Homo sapiens: one gene and its partners. The protein of the gene in region 1 interacts with the protein of each later gene in a biochemical or structural test. Each region holds a gene or a part of one and is shown in the gene's direction. Other genes may lie near its edges.

Region 1 (3,752 bases):
GCTGTGAGTTGGCCACTCTAAATCCCATGAGCTGAGCCACTATGCTAGAGTGATACTATATGATACTAGCATGAAAAAATAAAAAGCCACAAATCTCTATTTTCTTACAGAGCTGAAAAAGGAGAGAAGGAAGGATTTGATAATTTGTCATTTGCTTTTTATCTAAACATGCTTTTTGAAGAGAATCTGCCACCATAAAGTTCTGACATTGGTGTAATTATTCTTTGTGAATATTGTCTGGAAGATGTGGTGTTGGTAACTATGCTTGCTATCTCAAGTAATACATTGTTAACCAGTGATTGATTTATGTAACTATGAAAAAAACTTTAAAAAAAGTAGAAATCAATGTTTAATTATGCCCAGACATGTCATTATTGAACTTTGTATTAAGAGATTGTTTAAGCGTGATTTTAAGAGGGCCTAACCCATCTTACAGATTAACTGTACAAGTTCATATATTAAAATCAAACGTCTCTCATTTTGCCTGCCCTCATCCCCTAAGATATAAAAGATTCCCCCCCGTCCCCCCACTTTGGAGCTCATTCTTCGCAATATTTAAAATTGTAGCTCTTTGCATGTAATTTAGAACATTCTGACCCATACTCAACTGCTGGGAGACTCTGTTATTTATATTTAAAATGTTGACAGTGAGTTAGGAATTTGGAGCAGAAACCATATCTAAGTCTAAGTGAAAAGACTTCCTAAGTATTGGTAGAACTAACTGTAGTGGGGCTGAGTCATTATTACAGTACTGTACAGGCTGCGTAGCTATCTGTAGAATTGATAATGGTAATACCAGGTTAAAGTGTTAGCGATTCTTCTGCTGTTTCAGAGGTCTTGAAGTTTTTGCCTGTCTGCTATGGAGATAGGGAGTTCTCCCCCATTTGACCCCCTTAGCAAAGCACAATACTTGGCTCCATCAGTCTTTAGTCTAAGAAGTGATATATAGGATCATGGTTTGACATCATCTTGTGCTGATTCTGGTTGGCTTAATGGAATCAAATTGGATGAAGGTAATTAAATATGAATTGTTTCTGATGCTAATAGATAGTTGTACTTCTGTCTGTTGGGTATGGGTTGGGATGGGCGGTAGCATAGCTGATTGCGGTGGGGGAATTTCAGATAGCTGATGATGTGGCTATCTGAAAATTGCCACTACATTTTTAAAACTGAAAAGTGATGGTACCGCCAAATGAAATCTGCAGCATCCTCAGACTCAATCAGGAAATACTTAAGCATTATGCTCCAGGGTGGTTTTCTTCCCTTACATTGCAACTGGACTCCTTGAGGCACCTTTTTAGAATTAGTGAGCCGCTAGGATTTTTATACTATGCTTTGACATAAAAGAAAGTTGCTTGTCAATATGTGTTTTTTTAGTTTACCAGCATATCAGATCTCACAAACAAATTTTAGGCTCGGATTGGATGTTTCTAGTAAAAACAAGAAAATCCAGGCATCACTAAAAGAATCAGAAATACGTTGTGGCTTGAAAGGTGCAAACTAAATAATATAGCTAGCAGTAACGGTCACCAACTCCTGCTTTTCTTTGGTTCAGTAGATAGAGTAAAATGGAAAATAGGAAACCAAGGTCAGTCCCCAAATCTCATTTTAACCAATAGCAGCAAAAAAAAAAAAAAAAAAAAGGAATTGAGTCTGACTTTTTCCCCTTGCTGTCAGCATAAAGATGGGGAATTGAGAGAGTTGGAAAGACATTCATTAGTTTGTTCAGATTATTAAATAACATGTCTTAAAGTTTATATTCCAAAATTGGGCTGTGAGGTTTTTTTGTTTTGCTTGTTTTCAGTGCATGTGTGGGGTGGGGAGGTGCAAAAAAATGTTTGCCTTCTAATATACAGCTTTGTTGTATATTAATTATATAGTAACAGTTGTCCCTGCTGCTAATGGTATGGAAAATGATTCTGTTGTGCTTTCTGAATACATATCATTTTAGAAGTTTCAGATTATACTAAAACCATGTTATTTCATATTAGTTGGACATGAATGCATATTTATATGACACATCATTATCAACTTTTGCCTTTTGCCATCTTTTTAGTGCAAAGTAAAACTGATATTCTTCAAATCCAAAGTCGTTTCCTCAGAAGTGTGTTTTGTGAGGGATTGCATCTTTCCCATGTGAAACTGTGTCGAACTCCAGTAAACTGTGTTTGCTTGGGAAAATGAATTCAAATGTAATTAGTTTGAATGAAGCTGTGGAAATGTTTGAAATGAGTATTTTGACATTGGACCTGGAGGTTTAAAAAAAAAAACCCTATTGAAAGAATAGTAAAATATATTGGATGTGGAGGTGAGAGTCAGTTGAGTGAATTTTCTGTGTTGTATGGTTTAGATTATCTGACTATCCCTTAATTATTTTGAAACCATTAACTTTGGATAATAAGGGCATTTAGGCAAACAGTTGACACATGGATTTCTTAAGGTAAAAAGTTTAGAGACTTCCAAACTAGTCCTTAAGAGGCGAATGGGTATTGTGTTTAAAGGAAGCTTTCAGATTGTGTTTAAACTTCGAGTAGTAATATTTGGAACTGTCTTTTCTCCCTATTTCCATGCCTCATACATCTCAAGTTTGAGCAGCAGCTTTCCATCCCCATGGCTCCAGGCCAATAGCTGCAGTAGAAAATCTAAAATAGAGGCCAGGGTTGGAATAATTAGCATTTTGCCAACCCCCACCCTCCCTGCCACCTGCCTATCTAGATGTGGACAGTATGTGCTGTGTTGATAGCATAGGGCCTGGGAAGGGTGGAGAGGGATGTAAATGAGGGCAGGGTGGACAAAGTTTGATTGGGGGTTGCGGGGAAGCTTGTAGAGGAATGTCTGTTAGATATTGATGGTATTTTGGTGGCGTTATGAGAAATGGCTGATAGTTTGCTGAAATGATTTAATAGTAAATAGATATTGTTGAACATTTTCTGTGTGTATAGGAAAGATCCTAGATATTTTTCACACTGGGAGAGAAGTGATGTTACTGGTATCTCATGCATATCTCTGGAGTATATAGATCGTAATATCAACTTTGGCTATCTGTATCGAAGTTTGTATTAACTGTCTTTATGTGTGTCATTTATGTCTCTTAACGTTTAGTAAGAAAGAAATTCCAAGGAAGGTAGGCAACTTTTAATTTTAACTTCTTTCCTTTACTTTTTTTTTGGGCGGGGTGGGGGGCAGACAGGGTTTCTGTTTGTTGCCCGGGCTGGAGCGCAGTAGTGTGATTGCAGCTCACTGCAACCTCTGCCTCCTGGGCTCAAGCGATCCTCCTACCTCACCCTCCCAAGTAGCTGGAACTACAGGTGCATGTCACCACGCCGGGCTAATTTTTGCATTTTTTGTAGAGACGAGGTTTCTCGCCATGTTGCCCAGGCTGGTCTTGAACCCCTGGGCTCAAGCAGCCTGCCCACCTCAGCCTCTCAAAGTGCTGGGCATGAGCCACTGTGCCTGACCCTTAATTTCTTTTTGGTAGGTATTCATTTTTCATTTGTTGTCTTAAGCTTCTAGTTTCACTCACTTACCTGTCTGCTAAATTTTTCTGAAATGTGTAATAAATGTTTTAATTTACCATCTCCCTTCTACCCTTCCCATCAGATTTGGGGTGGGGAGGCATCTCTACCAGGCAATTAATTCCCCTCTGAGCCTTTGAAATTAACATTTTTGTTTCTGTGGATTCAAGGAGCCTAAAGAACACAGTTCATTAGCATTCCTAAGAAACACCTAGGTAAGCTCCAACAAAAGATGTT
Region 2 (3,752 bases), on another chromosome or scaffold:
TCCCATTCCTCCTGTCTCCTGCAGAGGTAGCCTAAAGATTAAAATACTCAACAAATTTCTCACACCACCATTAAAGCTGCTTACCAAGAACTTCCCCAGCATTTTGACTTCCTTGTTTGATAGCTGAATTGTGAGCAGGTGATAGAAGAGCCTTTCTAGTTGAACATACAGATAATTTGCTGAATACATTCCATTTAATGAAGGGGTTACATCTGTTACGAAGCTACTAAGAAGGAGCAAAAGCATAGGGAAAAAAATCTGATCAGAACGCATCAAACTCACATATGCCCCATCTACTACAAACAGATTGTAGTGCTGTGCTGGTTTATTCCGTTGTGCAGAACTGCAAGCTGAGTCACTAAACCAAAGAGAGGAAATAATAGGTTAGTAAACATTGTAATCCCAGGAACTAAGTTTAATTCACTTTTGAGTGTTTTGTTTTTTATTTTTGTTTGTCTGATTTACTTTGGGGAAAAGGCTAAAAAAAGGGATATCAATCTCTAATTCAGTGCCACTAAAGTAGTCCTAAAAGTCTTACTGAAGTATGGACTTTTAAGCTCAGGTGTTTGTCCTCAAATAGCTGCATGGCCACTAAATGTGAGGCATTCTGCTAAGTGGGAAATACACATTAAAATAGAGAAAATGAGAATTTCTTCCCTTTTATCAAAACAAGAAGCTTGCTATTACTACACTTGTTGATTCAAATATTATTGAGCAAAGTCTTTTCTCCTCCCAAATTTGGTCTGTATAGCATGCCAATTCCTACTATTTCCTTTGCCTGGTTAGCTCAGTAGCTACCTATAAGCATCACACATTTTGAGAAGTAGATGAAACTTATATGTTTTTAATTTGGAAAGCCATTTTATAAGGAGTTTGGCAGGCAGGTGAACACTAAAGAGACTTTCCATGAATTGGGCACAATCTAAAAAAAAAAAAAAAACAAGGTAGGAAAAAGAAACTTATTTACAATAATTAGAAATTTATCTGCAATAATAGCCTGATCAGCTGACTCAGAGTTAATGATTAATGTATGGGTCAGGATTTTGAAGAAAGGAAGAATGGTAAAATTGACAAAGGTGAGAGAGAATAGCAGTTATAAAGACAGAAGAGTTACTAGATGGGAGGGAGTTAAGCAAGGTTCAATAAGTTATTTTTCCTGTTGACTGGACTTTTTCTTTAAAAAGCAGTGTAGCTTTGCATACATTTTTTCTGTGAAATAGGGTCTTGCTATGTTGTCAAGGCTGGATTCAAACTCCTGGGCTCAAGCGATCCTCCCGCCTCAGCCTCCTGAGTAGCTGGGACTACAGGCATATGCCAGTATGCTCAGCTAAGAGCAGTGTAGCTTTAATTATAGCTAAACTACTTACCTTTCATCTTCCTTTACATATTTTATTTTCTTCTTTGGAATTTTTAATAACTAACCAGATGAATTGTTACAGTGTTTATTGGGTGTGCTGTAAGTAGAATTTTAAACATGCAAAGCCATCCATCATCCCTTTTTGTGATCCTACTTAGCTGCCTATGTGGCCATTGATTATCAAAGGTTAGATTTATAGGGTATACCCATATAAAAAGAATAATCACAAAATAATTAATTTTCCCATATACCTTTCGATGACAAAAACAAAATAGGTTGGCCTATGTTTCTTGATGAGACTTTTCCATATGATGGTATTGGCTAGGCTTGGTTCTCTGATATGTAAATACGATGTCATTTTTTAAAATCACTTGCTGCAGTCAGTGTGAATCTTTAAGTAAATAGGTGATTAACTTGTTACTTTGAAATGTAAATATGTGAAATTTTAGATTAAATTAAATATCTCTATTCCAGTTTTGGAATTTAGGAATTCTCATTTTAGGTTTTTTCTTATTTCCTGTTTAAGTGACAGTTATTAACATATCTGAACAATCAGCTTTGATAAAATAGTAATTTTGATTTGTTCCCTTTGGTTATTTATATTTGTCACAGGTATTGGTTAAGTCAGTCAAAAACCATGTGTTGAGGGTCTGCTATATGCACACCATTGTACTTAGTTTAGGATTTGTTAAGAGTAGAAATGAAATATTTTCAGCTTTAAATTCTAAATTGGCAAATAGATCTTACCTCTACTAATAGTTCTTTTGAGTACAAATTTAATTTGAATGAAAGTAAATCTGTATCTTGTGAATGAAAGGAATTTACTTTGTTGTGTACAGAGAAACCCATTTGCCTGGCTTTTGTCAATAATTCATTTGAATTTATAACCCTTTTTTTTTTTTTTTTTTTTTGAGACGGAGTCTTGCTCTGTCGCCCAGGCAAGAGTGCAGTGGCGCGATCTCGGCTCACTGCAGCCTCTGCCTCCCGGGTTCAAGCAATTCTCCTGCCTCAGCCTCCTGAGTAGCTGGGACTATAGCCGCGTGCCGCCATGCCCAGCTAATTTTTGTATTTTTAGTAGAGACAGGATTTAACTATGTTGGCCAGGCTGGTCTTGATTTCCTGACCTCGTGATCCGTCCTCCTCAGCCTCCCAACATGCTGGGATTATAGGCATGAGCCACCACACCCGGCCGAATTTATAATCCATGTTAACAGTAATATTTTGCTTTTGCTTCCTGTCCTTTGCATTAAATACTTAAATTTGCAAAATCTGATACTGCTTATGGCATCAAGAACCACTTTGGAAAAAAAACTTTGTTAAAGTAGAAATGCTGTTAATTCTTAGGCGTTTTGAGGTCGGACATTGTCTCTTGGTGGAATACCACCTTACTGATTAGTGCTAACATGAGAGGGTAATTATTAGACCTTGCAAATTAGCAAGTAAATAAAATAAAAAATATTTTATCACAAAAATTTACACTGATTATGTTAGGCGAGTGCCCAATTTCAAATACTGTTTGGGTTTTCCGTTTGTTTTTGTTTAGTTTTCTTTGGTTGTAGTTCCCATGCTCCATATGCAGCTTTACTGTAGTTCACAGAAAAGGTATCACCTGGACATTGAAAACTCACCAAAATCCAGCCAGTACATTTAATTGGGCTTAGAGTGAAACCATTTGGGTGGTATGGAGGTATACAGAATGAAAAATCGGGGTGGAGGGCATGGGAATATATACTTATAATAATGTTTCATGGTATTTAGTAATTATAATTGCTTAGGAATTAATATGAGTTATTAGGGAAAGAAAGAAAAAAACACTCCCCAAGAAAATAAAATTGCATTTTCTTTTGGAAAGAACCACTTTATTTTGCACCTTTCTTTTTCTTTTTTCCTTGCCTATTTTTCTTTCTTTTTTTTTTTCTTTTTGTTTTAAAGATATTTGGGCTATAGGGTGTATATTTGCAGAACTACTAACGTCAGAACCAATATTTCACTGTCGACAAGAGGACATCAAAACTAGTAATCCTTATCACCATGACCAGCTGGACAGAATATTCAATGTAATGGGATTTCCTGCAGGTACACATTATTCGTTTTTGTTTTTGTTTTTAAATCACTGTTGTTTGAACTTAGATGTCTTCGTTGGAGAGGTATATATTTTTAGCTGATGGAAGCTACTTTTACTTGAGTCTTTGTTTTTTGACTTGCATTTATCAAAGATCCGTAGAAACAGCAAAATTTGTAGAGTTTACATATTGGCATGGAAATATTTATGGGTTTCCTGAATTTCAGGACTGTATTTTTGTTTCATCTTGTTTTACTTTTTTGTTTTGTTATTTGGTATTTGAAATGATAAAATATGTTCAATATCTGTATTAAAAAGGTACCTTTAGCTCTT
Region 3 (3,752 bases), on another chromosome or scaffold:
GCTTTTTAACGTCACCAGATGGGGCGGGAGGTGGGGGGTTCACGCCACTCCCGCGTCCCACCTCCACGCCCGGGGCCGTGGCCCCCACATCACTGTGCAGCTCCCCGGCCCCAGCCGCGCCTCCGGGGAAGCCCGTTTTTAACCTTTCATCCATTGGGACTCAAAACTGTGAGACGCGTTCGCCAAACTGTGACCCCAGACCTTGGCCCCGCCACACAGAAACCCCTGACCCAGACTGTGACATCCGACTCCTAAAATGGTCATCCGACTCCAGACTGTGACCCCTGACCCCAAACTGTGACCCGAACCCCAGACTGTGCCCCGACCAGACTGTGACCCTTGACATCAAACCGTGACACCCCCTCCTCCTCTTCCACCCTCGGTCGCTTTTCCCTACTCTGACCTAGGACACGTCCCCAACGGAAGCCCCGCCTTCCCTTGCACCGCGATGAACCCAACCTCCCTGAAGCCAAAACTTCCCACCCTGCCGCACCTCCGGACCACCCCACTTGCCACCAAGCACATCCTCTCCAAATCCAACCCTTATTTGCGACCCTTCAGTGATGACCCAGCAGACCTCCAAAAAGCCTCCTCTGCCCAGATCTCCAGCCGGGTCTGGGGCTGGGTTGCGGAGGGGAGGGTCTGGGAGTCCACACTTCTCCACCAACTTCCCTTCCCACTCTCTTATTCCACATTGCAGTGTTTGGAATAAACCATGTTTTTATGCCTCCTCAGTCCAAGCCTAAGCTCCGTATCTGTTAGCCCCCCTCAAATTCTCTGGAGGAAACAGAAACACAAAAGTCCCACAGGGGAAGAGGAGACAGAATTAGAGAGAGAACAGAGACTCTGAAAGGAGGTGCCTGGGGAGACAAAGACCAAGAAAGAGGAGGTGGGAAGAGACCCTGAAAAGAAAGTCGAGAGGGTACTGGGGCAGATAAGAGACCCCAAGAGAGTGGTGAGATAGATCCCGGAGACAAAACATATTAAGATCAAAGGTATGGTTTTATTTCCTATGGCTATAGGTACCAAGGCTTGCTACATTCTCAATATCCTGTTCATGCAAGCTAGGAGAGTGTCTGACATATCCCAGCCAATCCGCATTATCTTGAATGCTGTTAATCTCACCAATGAGAATCTATTTCTAACATTTCATTATGTCAATTAGCCAAACCGCTGGTGCTGATGGGCGATAAAGAGAGACGAAGCACTTGTAATAGCTGCCTCCAGAGGGTGGACTTTCTGATTAAGTGCTCGCTGACCAGAGCTGAAATGTGAATGTCTGGTTAGGCAATTGACTGCCCCTAGAGGGTAGATTGAACCGCCTAACTTACAGATAATATCCATCCTGTCTACAAGAAAGCATTTTTGAAACAAATGAAAGCCATCACAACAGAGAGAGGAAAAGAAACCGGCCTTATGGGTCCTCGGGGAGTAGAAACTCAGTCTCCTTGCCAGTGAAAGAGCAAATTTGCATATATGAATAATTAATTAACTGGAAAGAACGCTCTCGGAATCAAACTGGACAATGGGGAAAACAAGCCTCCCGTAGAACTACAACTCCCAGAAGGCCTTGCCACTACCGCGAGGAACAGCGCCCAAAGTCACGCGAAGATGCAGTTTCTCCGTATCCGCAGGCTTCTTTCGCTGGCGCCATTACCTGAGTTCTCCTCCAGCGTTTCCGCACCCTCTCCGATTAGCGGTCCCAGGAGTTTCCAAGGTAACCGCGCAGTAGGGCGGATCTCATTAGGCGGAAAGCGAAACCCGGAAGTGACGCTCTTACCGGGTGTCAGCAGCGAGAGGGTTCGAAGATGGCGGCGCGCAAGGGTCGGCGGCGCACGTGTGAAACCGGGGAACCCATGGAAGCCGAGTCCGGCGACACAAGTTCCGAGGGCCCGGCCCAGGTCTACCTGCCCGGCCGGGGGCCGCCGCTACGCGAAGGGGAGGAGCTGGTCATGGACGAGGAGGCCTATGTGCTCTACCACCGAGCGCAGACTGGTAGGGCTGAGTCCGGACTCCAGGGTCCTGAGGTGGCTGATCCCGAGCCTTTAACCTGAGAGGTGCTCGGGAAGAGAAGGCTGGGGTCTAAGAGAAGTGATTTCATACCGGAGGCGGTTGATCCATGAGGGAGGTGGGGACTGAGCTCTTACTGTCCCGTCTTAACTCGTAAACCCCGCCTTCCATCCCCAGGCGCCCCCTGTCTCAGCTTTGACATAGTCCGGGATCACCTGGGAGACAACCGGACAGAGCTTCCTCTTACACTTTACTTGTGTGCTGGGACCCAGGCTGAGAGCGCCCAGAGCAACAGGTAAGACCCGAGGCTTTTCCAGGACCAGGAGGCTCAGTTTCCAGCCCCTTCCTCAGCACCCAGGAGTTAGGGCTTCCAGTTTCTGCCTCTCGCAGATCCAGGAGTCTGGGTTTCCAGCCTCTCTCCTTCCTAAGAATCCTGGAATCTAGTGCCTAACTCACCCCACAATTTCTCCCAGACTGATGATGCTTCGGATGCACAATCTGCATGGGACAAAGCCCCCACCCTCAGAGGGCAGTGATGAAGAAGAAGAGGAGGAAGATGAAGAGGATGAAGAAGAGCGGAAACCTCAGCTGGAGCTGGCCATGGTGCCCCACTATGGTGGCATCAACCGAGTTCGGGTAAGTATGGTCCCAGGAGCCTGCTCTGCATACTCTGAAACACATCTGACCCATCCCCTGTGTCCATAACTCCCAACACCTCCTCATGTTCTTTTTTTTTTTTTTTTTTTTGAGACGTAGTCTCGCTCTGTCACCCAGGCTGGAGTGCAGTGGCGCAGCCTCGGCTCACTGCAACCTCTGCCTCCCAAAGTGCTGGGATTACAAGCGTGAGCCACCGTGCCTGGCCCATTTTTTTTTTTTTTTTTTTTGAGATGGAGTCTCGCTCTGTTGTCCAGGCTGGAGTGCAGTGGTGCGATCTTGGCTCACTGCAACCTCCCCTTCCCAGGTTCAAGGGATTCTCCTGCCTCAGCCTCCCAAGTAGCTGGGGCTATAGGCGCCTGCCACCAGGCCCTTCTAATTTTTTGTTTTTTGGTTTTTTTTTGAGATGAAGTCTTGCTCTGTCGCTTAGACTGGAGGGCAATGGCATGATCTCAGCTCACTGCAACCTCTGCCTCCCAGGTTCAAGCGATTCTCCTGCCTCAGCCAAGTAGCTGAGATTACAGGTGCGCGCCACCACGCCCGGCTAATTTTTGTATTCTTAGTAGGGACGGGGTTTCACAATGTTGATCAGGCTGGTGGTGAACTCCTGACCTCGTGATCCGCCTGCCTCGGCTTCCCAAAGTGCTGAGATTACAGGCGTGAGCCACCGCATCTGGCCAATTTTTTGTATTTTTAGTAGAGACAAGGTTTCGCCTTGTTGGCTAGGCTGGTCTCAAACTCCTGACCTCGAGTGATTGATCCGCACGCCTCGGGCACCCAAAGTCATGGGATTACAAGCGTGAGCCACCACACCCGGCCTCCTTCAGTTTTTAGAAAAGTACTTGTCACATAGTTTTATACAATTTAGCTATTATGATCAGTGTCATTACATGTTAGGTACTGTTTTAGATTATGAGGATATGGTTTATGTTCTTCACTTTTCTCTTTGGTAACATAGTGAGTTATAGAACTTATCTGATGGGGCTGGCATGAGGTCAAATGAAATAACATATAGTGCCTAGAATAGCACCTGGTTGTAATATGAGGTATGTATTTTCTGTTACTATTCAGGAACTGTTTTTGGTTGT

What was found.
Region 2: the proteins of TOP1 (region 1) and CDK8 interact in a test that uses a peptide from one of them, tested with the Homo sapiens proteins (one study listed by BioGRID).
Region 3: the proteins of TOP1 (region 1) and GRWD1 interact in a test that uses a peptide from one of them, tested with the Homo sapiens proteins (one study listed by BioGRID).

What each region holds. Positions count from the first base shown.
Region 1 is NC_000020.11:41,031,725-41,035,476, forward strand, and holds part of TOP1 (DNA topoisomerase 1), read left to right. Parts: intron 1-3,752. UniProt on the Homo sapiens protein: Releases the supercoiling and torsional tension of DNA introduced during the DNA replication and transcription by transiently cleaving and rejoining one strand of the DNA duplex.
Region 2 is NC_000013.11:26,390,078-26,393,829, forward strand, and holds part of CDK8 (cyclin-dependent kinase 8), read left to right. Parts: intron 1-3,289; coding exon 3,290-3,433; intron 3,434-3,752.
Region 3 is NC_000019.10:48,444,198-48,447,949, forward strand, and holds the start of GRWD1 (glutamate-rich WD repeat-containing protein 1), read left to right. Parts: upstream 1-1,785; 5' UTR 1,786-1,808; coding exon 1,809-1,995; intron 1,996-2,187; coding exon 2,188-2,305; intron 2,306-2,483; coding exon 2,484-2,646; intron 2,647-3,752. UniProt on the Homo sapiens protein: Histone binding-protein that regulates chromatin dynamics and minichromosome maintenance (MCM) loading at replication origins, possibly by promoting chromatin openness.